2 separate regions of the Homo sapiens genome follow, and region 2 is linked to region 1. Evidence: fine-mapped expression QTL. A gene starts in region 1. The other region holds a variant in brackets. All regions are shown on one strand. Distances are from middle to middle.

Region 1 (5,372 bases):
AATTCCTTTAGTTTTATGTTAGCTTCCTTTTCTTCTACTAAAAAAATTAGATTTCTTAAAAATTGCAACTATGAGACATTAACATTGTAAAATATTTTTCCTATCTATTTGTCAATCCTGCATCCATCTATATATCTATATCAAGATCTATGCCTATATGTATCCATCTGTGCCCAAAAAGGCCTCATCTGATATTCAGAAAAATTATTTCTGGCTGATAAAATTTGTTTTTCTTCTCTATTTTTTTTTCTGCAGAGTTTTAATGTTTTACAACGTGTATGTATGTGTGTGTGTGTATATATATATATAATATCACTTTTGCAAGAAGAAAAGTGACTTTTAAAAAATGAAAGCAGGCCTGGGCACGGTGGCTCACGCCTGTAATCCCAGCACTTTGGGAAGCTGAAGCGGGTGGATCACGAGGTTAGGAGATCGAGACCATCCTGGCCAACATGGTGAAACCCCGTCTCTATTAAAATACAAAAAATTAGCAGGGCATGGTGGCGCACGCCTGTAGTCCCAGCTACATGGGAGGCTGAGGCAGGGGAATCGCTTAAACCCAGGAGGTGGAGGTTGCAGTGAGCCGAGATTGAGCTGCTGCATTCAAGCCCGGTAACACAGCAAGACTCCATTTAAAAACAAACAAACAAACAAACAAACAAACAAACAAAACAAAACAAAAGCAGATATACCAAAATGTTTATTTTGGATGGTAGGAATATTAAAATATTATTTTTTCTTTGTATTTTTACTGAAAAAATGTTTTAATTCTAAAAAAGAAATTAATAAAAAGGAAAATGTGAATCTAAGATTAGTGCATGAGAGCTGGAGACCCAGAGAGGGCAAACAGCATCAAGGTCAAAGTTGAGTGAGTCCTGGGTGAAAGTGTCTTTTCAGCCAGGGGAGATTTTCCATGCAGAAGGGACTGGGCATCAACTGTCAGGACATGGACAGAGACGTCTGCCATTAGAAGCTGGTCCTCTCATAGCCCACCAGCATCCCCCAGGAGGACACTGGCTTCCTCAAGGTCACAGCCTTTGGTTTCTGGAAAAAATGATTAAGCAGTGAAAGGATTAAGGTCTCACAGCTCCTATCGCATGATGTATAGATGCAGAGGTTTCTCATCATCTTCTTTTTATATTTTAAAAGATGGATGACAACTAGATGCCAACTGCAGCTCAGGCACCTGCCCAGTCCCTCTCAGAGCCGGGCACAAAACAGACACCTGTCTAGCCCCTCACAGAGAGCCAGGCACAAAACAGACACCTGTCCAGCCCCTCACAGAGAGCCAGGCACAAAGCGGAGACTTGTCCAGCTCCTGGCAAGGAGCCAGGCACAAAAGAGATGCCCATGAGTGTAAATGAATCTGTGAAACAGGCAGAACAGGAGCATCAACTGAGTAATTGTTTTTTCTTTTTCAAATAAGAACATTTGCGTTGAGAAGCCGCCACGGGAAGAGATGTGATGAAACACTACACAGAAAGAGGGAGGAGCCTCCGGGTAGGTTGGAGTGAGTAGGATGTAGGGTAGCCGGCAGGGGAGAAGAGGGGCAACCTTCTGTTCCGTAATATTGATACCACCCATTTGTGTGTCCAATTTTTGCTGGTTTGTGACGTCCTTCTAGGGTCCATGAGTAACCCCCACCCCATTGCCTAGCTGGGTGCCTGACTCCCCTTAAGTGCTCAGTAGACGTTGAACTGGACGGGCGCTGGCGTGGTGGCTCACGCCTGTAATCCCAGCAATTTGGGAGGCCGAAGCGAGTGGATCATCTCAGGTTCGGAGTTCGAGACCAGCCTGGCCAACATGGTGAAACCTTGTCTCTGCTAAAATTACAAAAATTAGCTGGGCGTGGTGGCGCGCGCCTGTGATCCCAGCTACTCCGGAGGCTGAGGCAGGAGAATCGCTTGAACCAGGCAGGCGGAGGTTGCAGTGAGCCATGATCGGGCCACTGCACTCCAGCCTGGGTGACAGAGTGAAACTTCATCTCTAAATAAATAAATAAATAAATAAATAAATAAATAAATAAAATAAACTTTGAACTGAACAGGGGCAGCTCTTACATCTGTCCAGTCTCGGGTTTATGCAGATAGAACAAGATAACCACATCCCACATGGGAGGCCAGTGTCCACTTGCTCCTTTGGAGGAACTACTGGGCATTTAAGGGACTCGTTGAACACACTCTGTAGGTCAACTCTGCCCGGAGTGGAGGGAGCTGCGCAGACCGCTGGCCCTCTGCACGGGTTTGCAACTCGGCTTCTGGAAACAGCGGGAGACGTCGAAGGAGGCGAGAAGGTGCGCGCGCCCTTCTCACCAGGCCGGCGGATGCTGGGTGGTACCCAAAGAGGCGCTCAGATCACTGGAGCTGGAGCTCAGTCGGCGGTCTTCTGCGGGAACTGCACCTATCCCGGAGCATCTCTGGCCCTCCTATTTCACTGAACTCGCCTTCCTCAGCAGGAAAGTGGGAAGACCGCTTGCTTCCAGGACGGTGTGGGGAAGGGTAAGAGGGCTCAGGGAAAGACCGTGGAAAGCTCGGCGCACAAGCGAGCTGGCATCACCGGGGATTCCCTCCGGCCCGGTGGGACTCCGGCGCGCTTGTAGCGAGGACCCCCAGCCCAGGGCAGAGCCTACCCTCCGCTCCCCCAGTCTGGGCCCTTGGCGGCCGCAGTCGCCCAAGCCCGCCCCGCCTCCGCGCGCGGCCCTCTCCGGCTCAGTGCCCTGCGCTGCCGGGAAGCAGGCTGAGGGGCGCACCGGGCGGCGGGCGGGGACCTGGGGAAGGCCGGGAGCGCCGGGACCGAGGACGCACGCGGCGGGCCGGGCCGCGCGCGCCTCCCCCCTCCCCCGAGGCCCGAGCGCGAGCCGCCGTGACGTCACGGGCAACCCGCCAGCCCCGCGCTCCTCCGGGCAGAGCGCGTGTGGCGGCCGAGCACATGGGCCCGCGGGCCGGGCGGGCTCGGGGCGGCCGGGACGAGGAGGGGCGACGACGAGCTGCGAGCAAAGATGTGCCCCGGGACCCCCGGCACCTTCCAGTGGATTTCCTTGCGGAAAGGATGTTGGCGGTCCCTGTGACCTGTGGAGACACGGCCAGATCTGCCCTCCAGTAAGTTCCAATTTTGTCCCCTGCGTTTCTGGAAACTCTCGAGACTTGGCCCTGAGTAGGGATGCGCTGTGAGTAGTCGGACGGAGGAAAGGGGCTTTCGGAATCCAATATGTGTGTGCTAGGCGTGCACTGTCCTCATCACCAGCCTCAAGACTGGTGGCGAGTTTGGGCGTTTGGGGAGGGTGAGGGGAGGGGGATGACACCGAATGGCCGGTGCATAGAGGCAATTCTGGATTTATGAACTTGATCAAAGGCATATTAACTAATTTCTAAAAATAGACCCCTCTGCAGTCAGAACAGATTTGGAGCCATGATGTGGTTTGGAGGCCCCTCTGGCGAAACTAGAGGTCTGTGAATGTGTGATCCTCCCTCCATCCTTTGACCATCACTCCCCGCTTCCTCTCACACCCCCTCAGGGCTGGGCGAAGGTGATTTCCAAAAACTCAGTAACTCCGTGTTTTGAGACTTTCTCAGTTTTTGCATCGCATGTGAGGGTTTGTTGGGTGCTCCTAAACCCTCATCATGGTCATTCTTCTTGGCTGGGCTGTTGATTTAATTAGGTTTGCCTTCTCTTGCTAACGTGCTCTTATTTATGCCAGTGTTTGTGGTTCTGGGTGTAGACTTTCAGGAAGCACAGCCATGAAGCTGCATGCGTCTGTGTGTGGATGCCTCATGCCTTTTCCTGGTGGTTTGCAGGCATGGAAGATTCTTCTGTTCATCTAAGCTCCTGACTTTAGGCCCTTCTAGAACATTAGAGAGGAGAAGAAATCACGTGCAAGGATTTAGGGACAAGAGGATGAGGTTTTGGTGTTTCCTTTCTGGTATTAGGTTTTCCAGAGAGAGGCTGTTAGCCTGTCTCTCGCCCACTCCACCACTGTGAATCCTGGCTACTGGGGCTAGTTCCTTGCTAGGAAAAAAAAACTCTAGAGAAATGTGTTTGTGTGTGGTGGGTGGGCGGGGGCCCTGAGGATGCAGGGACTGTGTCTGCTGTGTTGTCTGTTATAAGATGTTTCAGACCTATTTTGCATACTGGCAGCGACAAGTTGAGACTTGTTCAACTTGACACAGTCCTGTGGTCATAGCGAATCTTTCTAAAGCTCTGATCAGTCAAGAAGGGGGTTGTATCAATCCTCAGAACCCTGAGTGGAACTTTCTACAGGATTTATTAGGAGAAAAACCTTCCCGGAAGCTGCAGAAGGACAAATACAGAATCCGTGTCTGGGAGAAACCTCGTGGCCTGGTCTCCATTATTTGAGATGAGTTACATCTTGGAGGTGAGGACGTGCCTCGTGGTCTAAAGCTTCGGCACAAGGGCCCAACTGGAATTCCACTTACGGGTATGACTGTGGGGTATATGCTGTACCCATTGAATTCCCAGAGGGATTTGTTAAGTGGTTGTGTTGCTGTTTTGCCTGGTTAAGAGTGGCTTATTCTTGTTGCCTCATCTATCTTGAGTGCAGAATTTTTGCATAAACGGCTTCTCTTGAAAAATAGAAGTCCGTTTTTGTTTTGTTTTGTTTTTTTTCTGATTAACTTTCCTTTTCCTCTGTCTTAAACACCTTCCCCCGCCCCTCGCCACCTCCATGCTGTGTTTCTGTGGCTGGAGCTTTTCTGCACTGGAAAGGAGGAGTTCTCCCCTCTGTTCTGACATATCTGATCCCCACTAGTTTATATGATTGCTGGTCTGAAAACCTGGTGAATTCTCACTGCCCACATCAAATCAATTCCCTGTTCTTTAGTTGTTTTTTTTTTCCGCCTCCTGAGCGGTAGGCAGGCACTCTGGCTGGATTCTGGAGCCTGTGTTTGCCATGCCTGGGCCTTCTGCCTGCCCAAGATGGACACGTTTCTCTGGCAGCTTTGTCAAGAGATCTCCTGGACTATAAGACACCCTGTTCTTTCCTCCTGTTTGTGTGAGTGGCCCTGCATTTGGGCAGAGTATTGGCAGAATATCTGGGGGAAGTGGAAGACTTTGGATAGTTGCCGGTCCAGGTCGTCTGGAGAGGCAGTGGCAGGCCTGCTGATGGCTGCCCCTTTGCTATTTGTTTTATATCAGGTGGCCCTTCTGGATGTGTGGCCTTTTTATTTTGCATTTCCTTTCATAGTTGGCTGCAGACATAAGATTCTTCTTTTTCTCTTGTTTTGCTTTTTTTTTTTTTTTTTTGAGACAGAGTTTCACTCTTGTTGCCCAGGCTGGAGTAAAATGGCTGGATTTCAGCTCACTGCAACTTCCGCCTCCCAGGTTCAAGCGATTCTCCTGCCTCAGCCTCCCAAGTA
Region 2 (5,372 bases), 200 kb after region 1:
TCCTCTCTCCGGGGGGATTTATTCTGTCTCCAGAAGCAGCATTTCACTTTCCTGAACATCAGCTCTTCTCCCCTGGATTGCAGGGTCTAGGTCTTGTTCTCTGTCTGCTTCCAGCTTTTGGCATTTTGACAGCACATAGGACATGCTTGGAGAACGTTTTCTTGAGTTAACTGAATTCAGGACACTGACTTGGGGCTGGAAAGGCAAAGTGAGGAAGAAAGTATTCCCCTTTCAGAAGCTCCCCAGTCTGCCTTAAGAAACAAAGGCAGCCCTGTCATCTGCCCAGGACTTTACAGTTTATAAAGTGATTTCTCATCCTTTCTCCTTTCTTGTATTGCACAAATATCGAACGAGAACCTGCAGTGTGCCACTGTGCAGGGTGCCTAGAATAAAGGAGAAAAGCCACTGTGCTTTCTCTGAAGGAATCACAGGGAGTGAAGCTAGCTTCATGGATGCCAGAATTTCACAGATGAAGGGACTGGAGGCTTGGAGCAATTGCATTGCTTGAGATCCCCCCTGCTCATGGATGGTGGCTCCCAAATCAGGACATGAGTCTTCTGAATCCCTTAAACCTGCCCTGTGCCTGCCTGTTCTCCCAGCACATTCTCTGTACTCTCTTGTGCTGCTCCTCACCCCCTCTCCAACTGTCTCTCCTTCTCCACCATTGTCCTCTGCCCACTCCTAGTCCCTTCTTTCAGCTCTGTTTCTTCTGAAAATGAGGATCTTTCTCTCTACAGTGCCTCTTGTGGGACGGGTTCTGCTGATGGGGGCTGTGTTTGGGATCTCGCCTGGAAACACGATCTCTCCAACTTTCCCTGGGAGCAGAGCCTTGGGTCTCACTGAACCCACCTCCCCAGCACCTTGTGTGGTGACTGGCAGGAGGTAGCCATTCCCTCCTGTCCTCTCTGCCCTTGTCCACTTTCCTGTTATGAGTCAGTTGCTGAGATAGGCTATGAGGAGTTAACAGAGTGGATAAAAAAGAGCTTTGTCCTTCTTTAAAGCCTTCAAAATATACAGATGTATTAGTCAGGGCTTTCCAGAGAAACAGGACCAATAGAACATGAAGATAGATGCGTATCCATGTCTATATCAATATCTACCTTGATATTTATATCTATATCTAGGAGATTTATTTATTATAAGGTATTGGCTCATGCAATTATGGACCCAGAGGGGTCCTGTGATTTGCCACCTGCAGGCTGGAGACCTAGGAAACAGCTGTCGTGTCACAAAGGGCAGAGGGCTGGAGAACCTGTAGTGTAGATTCCAGTCCAGATTCGAAGGCCTGAGGACCAGGAATGCCAAGGGCAGGAGAAGATCGATGTCCCAGAACAAGCAATCAGGCAGAGATGAAATTCAACCTTCCTGTGCCTTTCTGTTCTATTCAGGCCTTCAGTGGGTTGAATGAGGCCCAACCCACATTGAAGAGGACCATCTGCTTTACTCAGTCTCCTGGTTGAAGTGATAATCTCATCTGGACATACTCAGAAATGCTGTTTAACCAGCTCTCTGGAAATCCTGTGGCCCAGTCAAGTTGACACACAAAATTAACCATCACACTGCAGAGACACAGTCTATCCCAATACCTGTATTTACTGGGTAACGTGCATCTCAGCTCACCAGGCTGGTTTGATTGACTTGGCCCAAAGCTGCCCTTTGAGTGTTGAGCCCCAGCTGACCCCTTTGATCCTTCACAGCCCCATCATTAAAACAAGGACCCTGAATCAAGTGACTGTAAGAGCCACTCTTGTCCTGTTCTGTCTGTATCCTGGCTTTGAGTGTTTATCTAAGCTAAGCCCAATTGACTGTTGTCATTCTTTGTCTCTTCCTTGCTCAGACATCAGTTAGGTATTTATTGAACACTCCTGTGTTCACAGCATCCGGCTCCTGGGATTAGAGACAGCTCTTGACTCCTGGTTTTGCTCTTTGAAACCTATTGGACTGCTTTTCTTTTAAGATACACCCCCCACATTATAGGAATCTATCCATTTCTTTGTTCATTTCTTTAATTGTGCATTATATCAGTCCGTCAGTCAGTTTTCCTCCTGAAATATGCTAAGTATTGAGAATTATAATAGATTCTATTAAGCACCGCTAATAAAGTACTATCCTTATAGTAGTAGTAGTGTTTGCGGTGATGGTCGTGTTAGTACTAGTAGTAATCAAGATGGCCATGAAGAGACTGCTTTTAATCTACCAGTAATCATGGTAAAAATAGTAATAGCTCAAATGTATTATTCATGGTGTTTCAAGCACTTTACATTATATGATGTCATTTACTCTTCACAACCTGCCAGGAAATGGAAATGATTACGTAATATACTCCAGTTTGCAAATGAAGGAATCTTCCTGCGGAACGTATGTGAAGCGCATATTGGTGCTCTGGGCTTTTGCATAATTTCAAATGTCCTTTTTTTTTTTAAACTTAAGGCTAATGTTTAGAAGCTTTTGCTAATGAGAGGACCATTTGCTAAATCGGTATAAGTGCTACACATTTGGGTATCTCCATCCCAACATACCTCTTATTGCCATTCCCCAAAGCAGACACCTTCTCCTCCCTCCCTCAAGGACCTCTGAGCTTGCACTCCAATTCCTCTCCCACACTCACCTTTCTCCTTTCTGTTCCTCTTGGGATCCAGGTTTATTTGAGGAGATAGGAAAAGCTCCTGATCCAGCAGGTTTTATTCTTAAATTTGTAACAAAGTAAATCACAGAACCTCCACCCAGCATCCAGGCCTCTGGTTCTCTCCCTCCTTCCCAGGTATAGGCCGGCTTTCAGAAACCCTGCACCACATAGACCCTGGGCCTGAATTGCTGTGAGTAATAATGACTCTGCTGGTAATTTGTGTCCTTCTGCTTGGAACTGTTTCCTTTTTAGTTTGGTCACCCTCCCAGAGCTGGTTTCAATGGGGGCATACCCATTATGGGATGCAGGGCATCCTGCATCCTGAGGAATTTTTTTTCCTCCAAAAATGAAACCTTGAAATGAGGACATTGTCCTGTCCACGGACTGCACAACAACACTGAGCCTCAAGGACTCATACTGGCATTTTTCTTCTTTTGCAGAGTGTGGGCACCCTGGCTTCAAGCTCACGAGAAACCAGGTCGGGATTTAAACAA[T/C]GTTGGGTTAAAGCAAAGTTTCATAAAGACAGAATCAAGAAAAAAAGAAAGAGAAACCAATCTAAGTGCCATCCTCCCTGAGTTGCATCTTACCTGAGTCTTCAGCCGCCGCCCCCTGCTGCTGTGGGAGGAAACGGGAAAGTGACTGGCCATGGGGACAGGGGTCGGGGGTGTGAGGGTTAGTGGTAGCAGGGAGGTAGCACTTCTGTGAAGCCGGAAAGGAGACCTGAACCTGGCTCTCTGCTTTGCTGCTTGCCAGCCCTCTGGCTGGGAAGAAGGCTCTTGGCTCTTGTGAGCCTCGGTTTCCTCTGCAGAGTGGCCTGTTCTGAGGACAGGCTGACATTGCTGTCCATCAGTCTTCCAGGACCCTGAGGATTTCAGCTCTACCCATGGGCACTGAACTGGAACATTCACTGGTCATTTGCTTTCGTTTTTTTTTTTTGTTTGTTTGTTTTTTGATACAGAGTTTCACTCTTGTTGCCTAGGGTGGAGTACAATGGCGTGATCTCAGCTCACCACAAGCTCTGCCTCCCGGGGTCAAGCGATTCTCCCCAGTAGCTGAGATTACAGGCATGCGCCACCACGTCCGGCTAATTTTGTATTTTTAGTAGTGATGGGGTTTCTCCGTGTTGGTCAGGCTGGTCTCGAACTCCTGACCTCAGGTGATCCGTCTGCCTCAGCCTCCCAAAGTGCTGGGATTACAGGAGTGAGCCACCGAGCCTGGCCGCTTCCGGTCTTTGGATTTGATTTTCCTCAAGTGTAATTGAAAGCAGGGGCCTGGATGGCCGCCATAGTCCCTCCCAGCTTCGACATTACACATTCCTGCCAATCCATTTTTCAGGCTGATAACATTGTTCAGAGTTTAATGGGAGCAGGGTAAGATAGTCACCGTGTGGAGCAAAAATTGAAGGAAATATTCCAGATGTCATGATTTTTTACCTGTAGCCCCTCTGCTGCCACACCCTTGTGCACATCCTCCAGACACTTTTAAAGAATAAACTCTATTTTCAGAAGAGTTTTAGATTTACAGGAGAATTGTGAAAACAGTTCAAAAAGTTCTCATATACCCTGCTCCCAGTTTTCCCTGTTACTAACGCTTTGCATTAGTGTGGCACATTTGCCACAATTAATGGACCAATATTGATACATTATTATTTACTGAAGTTGAAACATTACTTTAGTTTTTACCTGGTCCAGGATCCCATCTGGGATCCCACATCACATTTAGTGATCATGTCTTCTTAGATTGCCCTGGGCTGTGCCGCTTTCTCAGACTCTCCTGGTTTGTGATGACATTGACAGTCTTGAGTTTTGATGACCAGTTTTGACTGGTCAGGTATTTCATAGAACGTACCTCTGTGAGGGTTGTCTGATTCTTCTTCTTATTAGATTGGGATTATGGAGGAAGGCCACAGAGGTAAAGTTCCGCTTTTATGAAATCAAGGGTAGGCACCATCAGCATGACCTATCACTGATGTTGACTTTGATTACCTGGCTGCTGTAGTGGTTGTCAGGTTTGTCCACTTTAAAGATACTTTTGTGTTTTTGTTCTTTCTTAACTCCCTTTTTATATTAAACTCTTCAGAAGGAAGTCACTGTGCATAGCCATCCCCTAAGAAGAGGGCATTCCTGCTCTTCCTTCTCCATGGCTAGAGGATCTACATGAACTATTTAGATTTTTTCTACCTGGGAGATTTAACTCCTCTCTCCTATTTATTTATTTATATATCAGCATGGACTTGCAGGTATTTATTTGATAATTTTTAATTTATTTGAGTTATAATCCAATAATATGGTTTTATTTTGTTGCTCATGGTTTTTCTTCCTTGGCTATTGGGAACTCTTCAGTTACTTCCTGTGCCCATTTGACATACTTTCTTATTATGGGTCTTTCTTTCTTCCTTTTCTTTCCTTCTTTCTTTCTCTCTCTCTCTCTCTCTCTCTTCCTTCCTTCCCTTCCTCCCTCCCTCTTTTCTTTTCTTTTTTCTTTTCTTTCCTTCCTTCCTCCCTCCCTCACTCCCTCCTTCCTTCCTTTTTCTTCCTTTTTTCCTTCCTTCCTTCCCTCCCTTCCTCTTTTCTTTCTTCTTTCTTTCTTTCTTTCCTTCCTTTCTCCTTCCTTCCTTCCTTTTCTTCCTTTCTTTTCCTACCTTCCTTTTCCTTCCTTCCTTTCTTCCTTCCTTTCCTCCTTCCTCTTCTCCTCCTCCCCTTCCTTCCTTCCTTCCTTCCTTCCTTCCCTCCCTCCCTCTCTCTCT

The links.
Region 2: its variant is fine-mapped to the expression of PVT1 in whole blood (TOPMed, PIP 0.99).

The regions. Positions count from the first base shown.
Region 1 is chr8:127,791,637-127,797,008 of GRCh38, forward strand. PVT1 (Pvt1 oncogene) reads left to right here and starts at 2,888. Exons shown (of 9, transcript NR_190187.1): 1 at 2,888-3,098. MIR1204 (microRNA 1204) reads left to right here and starts at 4,326; the gene lies at 4,326-4,392. RefSeq lists enhancers at 1,298-1,868, 3,011-3,580, 3,581-4,152, 3,874-3,923, 4,024-4,363 and silencers at 2,594-2,643, 2,664-2,723, 2,734-2,893.
Region 2 is chr8:127,993,495-127,998,866 of GRCh38, forward strand. All of the region lies in intron 4 of PVT1 (Pvt1 oncogene), which reads left to right. Among named protein-coding and RNA genes, the nearest start is that of MIR1206, 13 kb to the right of the region's middle. RefSeq lists an enhancer at 3,087-3,176. The variant T/C (reference allele first, on the strand shown) is at 3,121.